2 linked regions of the Homo sapiens genome follow. The protein of the gene in region 1 interacts with the protein of each later gene in a pairwise test. Each region holds a gene or a part of one and is shown on either strand. Other genes may lie near its edges. The genes, in order: MAP3K7CL and USF1.

Evidence for each region.
Region 2: the proteins of MAP3K7CL (region 1) and USF1 interact in binary tests that used the Homo sapiens proteins (3 or more experiments, as listed by UniProt).

What each region holds. Positions count from the first base shown.
Region 1 is NC_000021.9:29,147,407-29,151,323, forward strand, and holds part of MAP3K7CL (MAP3K7 C-terminal-like protein), read left to right. Parts: intron 1-1,782; coding exon 1,783-1,844; intron 1,845-3,917.
Region 2 is NC_000001.11:161,039,265-161,043,181, reverse strand, and holds part of USF1 (upstream stimulatory factor 1), read left to right. Parts: intron 1-299; coding exon 300-349; intron 350-509; exon of another isoform or gene 510-511; coding exon 512-627; intron 628-964; coding exon 965-1,066; intron 1,067-1,335; coding exon 1,336-1,531; intron 1,532-1,770; coding exon 1,771-1,858; intron 1,859-2,309; coding exon 2,310-2,368; intron 2,369-2,511; coding exon 2,512-2,606; intron 2,607-2,851; coding exon 2,852-2,980; intron 2,981-3,172; coding exon 3,173-3,262; 3' UTR 3,263-3,917.

The sequences.
Region 1 (3,917 bases):
TGTACAGTATATGTATATGTACTGCATATGTATCTGTATTGTATCTGTATGTGTACTGTACATATCTTATTGTATCTGTACTGTATACATGTGTACTGTATATGCATCTGTACTGTATCTCTATTATATATGTATATGTGTACTGTATCTGTATTGTATATGTATGTGTACTGTGTATGTATCTGTACTGTATGTATATGTGTACTGTATATGTATCTGTACTATACCTGTACTGTATGTGTGTACTGTATATGTATCTGTACTGTCTCTATTGTATATGTATGTGTATGTGTACTGTATGTGTATTTGTATTGTATATGTATGTGTACTGTGTATGTATGTATCTGTGCTGTATCTGTATGTGTACTGTATATATCTAACTGTATCTGTACTGTATATGTGTACTGTATAAACCTAACTGTATCTGTACTGTATATATCTGTACTGTATATCTGTACTGTATCTCTATTATATGTATGTGTATGTGTACTGTATCTGTATTGTATATGTATGTGTACTGTGTATGTATCTGTACTGTATCTCTATTATATATTATATATGTTTGTGTATGTGCATGTGTACTGTATGTGTATTGCATATGTATATGTACTGTATATGTATCTGTACTATACCTGTACTGTATGTATATGTGTACTGTATATGTATCTGTGCTATATCTCTATTATATATGTATGTGTAGGTATACTGTATGTGTGTCTGTATTTTATATGTATGTACTGTATATGTATCTGTACTGTACCTGTACTGTATGTATATGTGTACTGTATATATACCTGTACTGTATCTCTATTATATATGTATGTGTAGGTATACTGTATGTGTACTGTATATGTATCTGTACTGTACCTTTACTGTACATATATGTGTACTGTGTATGTACTAGGGTAGGGATTGGAAATGAGTGGCCAATGGACCTTAGAGCCAGAGAGTACCTGGAGATAATGGAAGTTCTGCTTTCTAGCACCAAGGCTCGGTCAGCACTATGTTCTTGAAGAGATTGGGGGTGACTTGGATATTTTGACCCATATTTTGGTCAGGTTTCCTCAAATGCTTCTTAGAACTGCATCTTGCCATCCAGCAACAGCTGCCTATTGCCAACCAGTCAACGTAAGCATGAGTTAGGAGGTCTTTCGGGACTCTCTGGGCTCTGGCGCTCCCTAACAAAGCTGTGAATTCTGCTGCAGGGTAGGAGTGCTGCCTGGTGTATTGGAAAGAAACGCCCCATTTGGGTTGCTGCCTGCTTCTCACTGTAACCCAGAATGAGTTTCTGGTTAACTGCCTGTTAGTGTGGTTTGTGGTAGGAGCAGACAGCAATACCATCACAGCTTGTGGCACTTGGAGTCATTCAGAGCAGAACGAATGCTTCTACTTTTCACTAACATGTTCTCCTGTCCCATTAAAGTCCTTCTGGCCACCTCATTAGCACCTTGTTAAAGCATTTTGTTTCATATCATATTTTTTGGTTTTGGCCAATGTAAGAGTATTGAAAGACAAGCAGTCCTTCTTAATTGGAGAGCTGCCAGCCTGGACATTTGAGGATTCTGATATTTGCTTGCAAAATTTTGTTCAGGCGACCTAAGCTCTCCACGCATCTGTGTGTACAGAAAATGAGCAAAATTGTCCTTTACATTCTGTCTGTCCCCAACTGAAGTGATGAAATGACTGAAACAGTGTATACTGATGGTCTAACTCTGGGGGAGTCCAAGGACTCCTACAAGAAAGAGCTCCATAGTGAAGAATCATTTTATTTCCTTGTTTTAGATGATACACCCCCTGAAGACTCCATTCCTTTGGTCTTTCCAGAATTAGACCAGCAGCTACAGGTAAGGATTTTTCTAAAGTCTCTCTTCTTTCCTCCTTAGTGTCATAAAGTATAGCGAGCTGGGCAGAGAGTGGCCTGACTAGGGGAGACTGACTTGGACCCAGAATGTGGGGCTTTGAAGTCATCAAGGATTACATTTCTAGAGCTCCAAAGTCAGGCTGAAGCCCTCATGGAATGCCCCTGTCTGGTTATCTGGCTATGGCACCAGGACAGCAAGTGCTTATAGCATAAACTGGCTCCTATTTTTAAGGGGTTCTGGAGCCTGGGAAAAGGACGGGTCCCTTCTCTACTTCGATATGGCTGTCTCTAGGTCATTGCATTTTTGGCTTGTCTGGGGTTAGTGATTTAGTATTAAACTCTGCAGAGAAGACTTACCATGTTTGCCAAGACTTTGGAATAATCTTCCTTTCTCTGTTCCCTGCCCCTTCCCCAGTTCTCTGACAACTTTTAATGGAATATAACTATTTTAACTTAAACCTTCTGAAAATTGACTTGTTGGACCCATGACAAATTATTTTGTATATGTAGTTTCTGAGTGATCTGTTGAAAGATATTTTAATACACCAGAATTATTTGAAAGGAGCTCATTTATCACATTTTAATTTTCTTTAGATTATCCATGGTGATTCCAGGCAAAAATGGCTTTCAGAAGAGGTTCTGTCTAAAATACCAGGATACTGGCCTTGGGCCAGCCATTCACTTGAATACTTAACTTTGTAGTCACATTTAGGCAAGTCCAATAGGGGTCTTGAATCCTGTACACAGACATTTCTTAGTCACCACTTTTTTCTCCTAAATATTGATTTTGAAAGCCTTTAGGAGGGGTTTGTAACCTCCAGTTCCCAACAGGCCCTGACATACCCTATTATCTTACACACAGCAGCTTTTCCCATTTGTGGGTGTGCCTTGTGTCCTAACGTCATTTGAGTTTGGCATTCTTATTCCTGGACAGCCCTCAACAGAGGTGGAAGAAGAACCAAGAATGAGCCCTTCCGCAAGCCAAGATAGTGTTCCTTTTTGTTTGCTTCTGTTCTTACCTCAGTATGCAGAGCACTGTGTTAAAAACCTGGCAGCAACCAGGTCAGGTTTGAAGAGCTGGTGTTCTACTGCCAGGGTGGTCTCTAAAAACCAACTGAGGGTGACTCAGGTGTGATCTGGCCGCTTGGAGGAGTCCTCATTCTCACCTTTGTAGCAGTCCTGGGCATTGTCTCAGCTTTCCAACAGAAAGCTGCTCAACAGAGCATTATCAGTTATGTAGGTATTACTGAAAATTGTATAGGAGGTCGGAGGGTTACACTGATCACCACACAGCTGTCAAAAGAGCTCTGTCGTCCCCTAAAATTTCCTCTCTAGCTATCAGCCATCACGTCTCCCTCTTTTTTCTATCCTCCATGCAGGGTTCTCAACCCAGCTCTCCTGGCTTCTAATTTTTAACCATAGTCTCTCCCTTCCCCACTCCCACCCCCACCAATATGTCTTCTTTTCAGCATGAAGAACAATTCAGCTCTCCCTCTACCTTTCCTTTTTTTTTTTTTTTTGAGACAGAGTCTCCCTTGGTCACCCAGGCTGGAGTGCAGTGATGTGATCTCGGCTCACTGCAAACTCCACCTCCTGGGTTCAAGCGATTCTCCCATCTCAGCCTCCCTAGTAGCTGGAATTACAGGCATGTGCCACCACGCCCGGATAATTTTTGTATTTTTAGTAGAGACGGGGTTTTGCCATGTTGGCCAGACTGGTCTCAAACTCCTGACCTCAAGTGATCCGCCCGCCTCAGCCTCCCAAAGTGCTAGGATTGCAGGCGTGAGCCACGGCGCCTGGCCTGCATTTTCTTCTGGTCTGTTGACACTGCAAGTGATAGTTCTTGCTTAGGTTCTGTTCTCACAGAGAGGCTGTCTATGTGCTGCTGGTGGTGTAATTGGGATTGCTATTGAAAGTAATGCCATTGGCCCGGTGCCGTGGCTCACACCTGTAATCCCAGCACTTTGGGAGGCTGAGGCGGGTGGATAAGACCAGCCTGGTCAATATGGTGAAACCCCATCTCTACTAAAAATACAAAAATTAGCCAGGTGTGGTG
Region 2 (3,917 bases), on another chromosome or scaffold:
GGCAGACCTGGATTCAGGTTCTACTCTATCACTTACTGTGTGATTTGGTTTCTCTATCTATAAAATGGAAGTAGTGCTATCTATCTCGTGGTGCTGTTTTTAGTACTAAATAAGATTACATGTAATGTACTTAGCTTAGTGCTTATGTACATAGTAAACAGTAAACACTAGTTGTTATTCTAACCTAACCCAGCTTCTGTTGGGAATGCCAATGAGTTTGCAGCCATATGTTACTGGGCCAGTGAGCTTCTCATTGACTTCTTCTCATACTCTTCCTTTTGTCCTTTCACCACAAACAGGCAGCAGAAAACAGCTGAAACGGAAGAGGGGACAGTGCAGATTCAGGAAGGTGAGTGCTAGAAACAGAACCAAGACTAAGAACCCATCATGGCCTCCCTTCCTTCCCCACCAGACCATCTCCTGTGCATCCTCCTCCTTCCGTGACATGCAAATGGAACGGGGGTAGAAAGGCAGTTAACTCACAGACTTTTCCTTTGTTCTTTTAATTCAGGTGCAGTGGCTACTGGGGAAGACCCAACCAGTGTGGCTATTGCCAGCATCCAGTCAGCTGCCACCTTCCCTGACCCCAACGTCAAGTACGTCTTCCGAACTGAGAATGGGGGCCAGGTAAGGGAGGGGGCCAGGTGGCTGCAGGTGTTATCTGGGGTTGGGATTGAGGGAGGTAATTGAACATGTCTTGGGGAGACCTGGCTTGGAGGATGAGTTGAAAGAGTGGACTGTTGCAGGGGAGGGAGGTGCTAATACTGGAGTAGAGACTGGTGTGAGGTTAGATGTATGCTGAAACCTCTGTGTGGGGAAAGAAGGGAGAATGGCTGAATCCATGTCTCTGAAGGACTTTGTTTTGGGGCCCTATCCAAGGGAAGCTTTATGAGGGGCCCTAGGATTCCCAACACTTAATCTTTTCTTCTCTCTTCACTCCCTCTGCCTTCCTCTACACTTCTAGGTGATGTACAGGGTGATCCAGGTGTCTGAGGGGCAGCTGGATGGCCAAACTGAGGGAACTGGCGCCATCAGTGGCTACCCTGCCACTCAATCCATGACCCAGGTACAGGGTATGGGCTGGGGAGGTCACTAGAGTTCTGAGAAGTAAGATGAAGAAGGGAATCAGTAGGATGGGGGTGAAGCTAGGAACAGTGAGGCATCTAAGGCTGCCTTGTCCCAAAGCACTAGGCTCTCCTTTTCTGGATGTTTCTCTCTCTCTCTCTCTCTCTCTCCACCCTACCTACCACCCCAACGGATAGAAGCTGCAGAGTGGTGTAGTGGGAAGAAGTTTTTGACTGTTACCAGAATCAGTTTTCTTGCTCCCCTTCCCAGGCGGTGATCCAGGGTGCTTTCACCAGTGATGATGCAGTTGACACGGAGGGGACAGCTGCTGAGACGCACTATACTTACTTCCCCAGCACGGCAGTGGGAGATGGGGCAGGGGGTACCACATCGGGGAGTACAGCTGCTGTTGTTACTACCCAGGGCTCAGAGGCACTGCTGGGGCAGGCGACCCCTCCTGGCACTGGTGAGATATTGCATGAGGATGCTGGCTGAAAGGGCTAGAATAGGCTGTGGGACATGACTGGTAGGCAGTGAGCCTTCACTCATGACTCTTAGTGATCATTAAGACCTGGACAGGCAGTGAGTCTGGGGCTGCTCTTCTATTAGCATGTTCTTTTTAGAGGAGGGGACCAGGGTCTTCACCTCAGGGCTTGGTGAGGTTCCTACCCATGTCCTGACAGAACCTACCCTGCATCTTCACAGGTCAATTCTTTGTGATGATGTCACCACAAGAAGTACTGCAGGGAGGAAGCCAGCGCTCAATTGCCCCTAGGACTCACCCTTATTCCCCGTGAGTGACCCTTGTTTCTTCTCAGATTCCGTAAGTGGTTTTTTTTTTTTTTTTTTTTTTTTGAGACAGAGTCTTGCTCTGTCACCCAGGCTGGAGTGCAGTGGCATGATCTCAGCTCACTGCAACCTCTGCTTCCAGGGTTCAAGCGTTTCTCATGCCTCAGCCTCCTGAGTAGCTGGAACTACAGACATGTACCACCACCCCTGGCTAATTTTTGTATCTTTAGTAGAGACAGGGTTTCACCATGTTGGCCAGGCTGGTCTCGAACTCCTGACCTCAAGTGATCCGCCTGCCTCGGCCTCCCAAAGTGCTGGGATTACAGGTGTGAGACACCACACCTAGCTACCATAAGTGGTCCTAATACCTGCTAAATCTTGTATAATTCCTTAACCCCAAACTTCAATCATGTATTTTGTCTTCTTACTCTGGCCACCCTGGGCTCTGTTGTCAGGAAGTCAGAAGCTCCCCGGACGACTCGGGATGAGAAACGCAGGGCTCAGCATAATGAAGGTAGGTATGATCTGGGTGGAGCTAGAAGCTGTCTGGTGTGATCTCAGCAGTGATGTCTGAGGGGAGGAGGGATTAGGTAATTTTACCCTGGGACTTGTGGCGAGTTTTCACTGAGTCACCTTGTCCTCCACTTTGCCCCACAGTGGAGCGTCGCCGCCGAGACAAGATCAACAACTGGATCGTGCAGCTCTCCAAGATAATCCCAGACTGCTCTATGGAGAGCACCAAGTCTGGCCAGGTCATGGAAAGACCCTGGTAGTGGGCAGGATGCCTGAATTCTGCCTCCTGGTATTGTTTCCAGAAATGGTAGAGAGAGGGGCACACATGACAGTAGTCTTATCTCTCCCTGAGGTTCCTGTATCCCTGGGAGATATTATACCACCTTCCTTAGATGAAAATGAGGTCCAAAGTGTGAACCTACTTTTGGAAAGCAAGCTGGGTATCTGAAATCCTAGTTCTCATTTTGTTGACCTTATCTTGCAGAGTAAAGGTGGGATTCTATCCAAAGCTTGTGATTATATCCAGGAGCTTCGGCAGAGTAACCACCGCTTGTCTGAAGAACTGCAGGGACTTGACCAACTGCAGCTGGACAATGACGTGCTTCGACAACAGGTCAGACTCCTACCCCCAGTGCAGCCCTTCTCAGTTCTGCTAGCCACTGACCCAGTTTGACACCCTCTACTTTGTTCTCCATGGAGAAGGCTTCATCTTTTCCCCCTCACCAGTGGATGTCTGAATACATTCAGGGGCTTGGAAGTGCCAGCTTTACTACCCATTCCCTTTACTGCCTCCTTCCCATGTCAGGTGGAAGATCTTAAAAACAAGAATCTGCTGCTTCGAGCTCAGTTGCGGCACCACGGATTAGAGGTCGTCATCAAGAATGACAGCAACTAACTATGGGGATTCAGGGGCTTTGGGCCCAAGAACTGCAGATAGCCCAGGAGCAACAGCCTAATCCCGTGCCCCTTTCCTTCACTGCCCCACTTCTGGCATGGGACAGGGGGAAGTTCAGAAGGTGTGTCCTTGAACTGAGGCCCTGTGATATGGCGGCCTGCAGTGGTGTGAAACACACAATGTGGACGTGCACTGACAGCCTTGCCCACCCCCACCATGCAGCCCCTGGGCCCTTGTGCTCCTCTCGCACAATGCATGTGCTGTCTCCATGCTGGATACTGGACACACTAAACTCTGGGGCTTGTCCTGTGCTTGCTTAGAGTGCCCAGCAGAGGTTTGCTGACAGGTGATGCTCTGGCTTGCCCCAGGACTCTGGCACTTCCATTGGTTCTTCCTTTCCCTGGAGCTGAGGTTTAGATGTGCAACCTGTGGCTCAGGGGAGCAAGCTTACACAAGAAGTGAGGGAAGGATGTTTAGCAGTGGCTGGTGCCCATGAAGAGGAGATTGGCCAGTGAGAAGCTGAGGCCTATGCAGACATCTCTGGAGCCAGAGAGAACAACAGGCAGGGGCCCACTTGGGGCCTTCCCCCTTGTGGGGGTCGTTTTTTTTTTTTCTTTTCTTTTTTTTTTTTTTTTTTTTTTTTTTTTAAGATAAA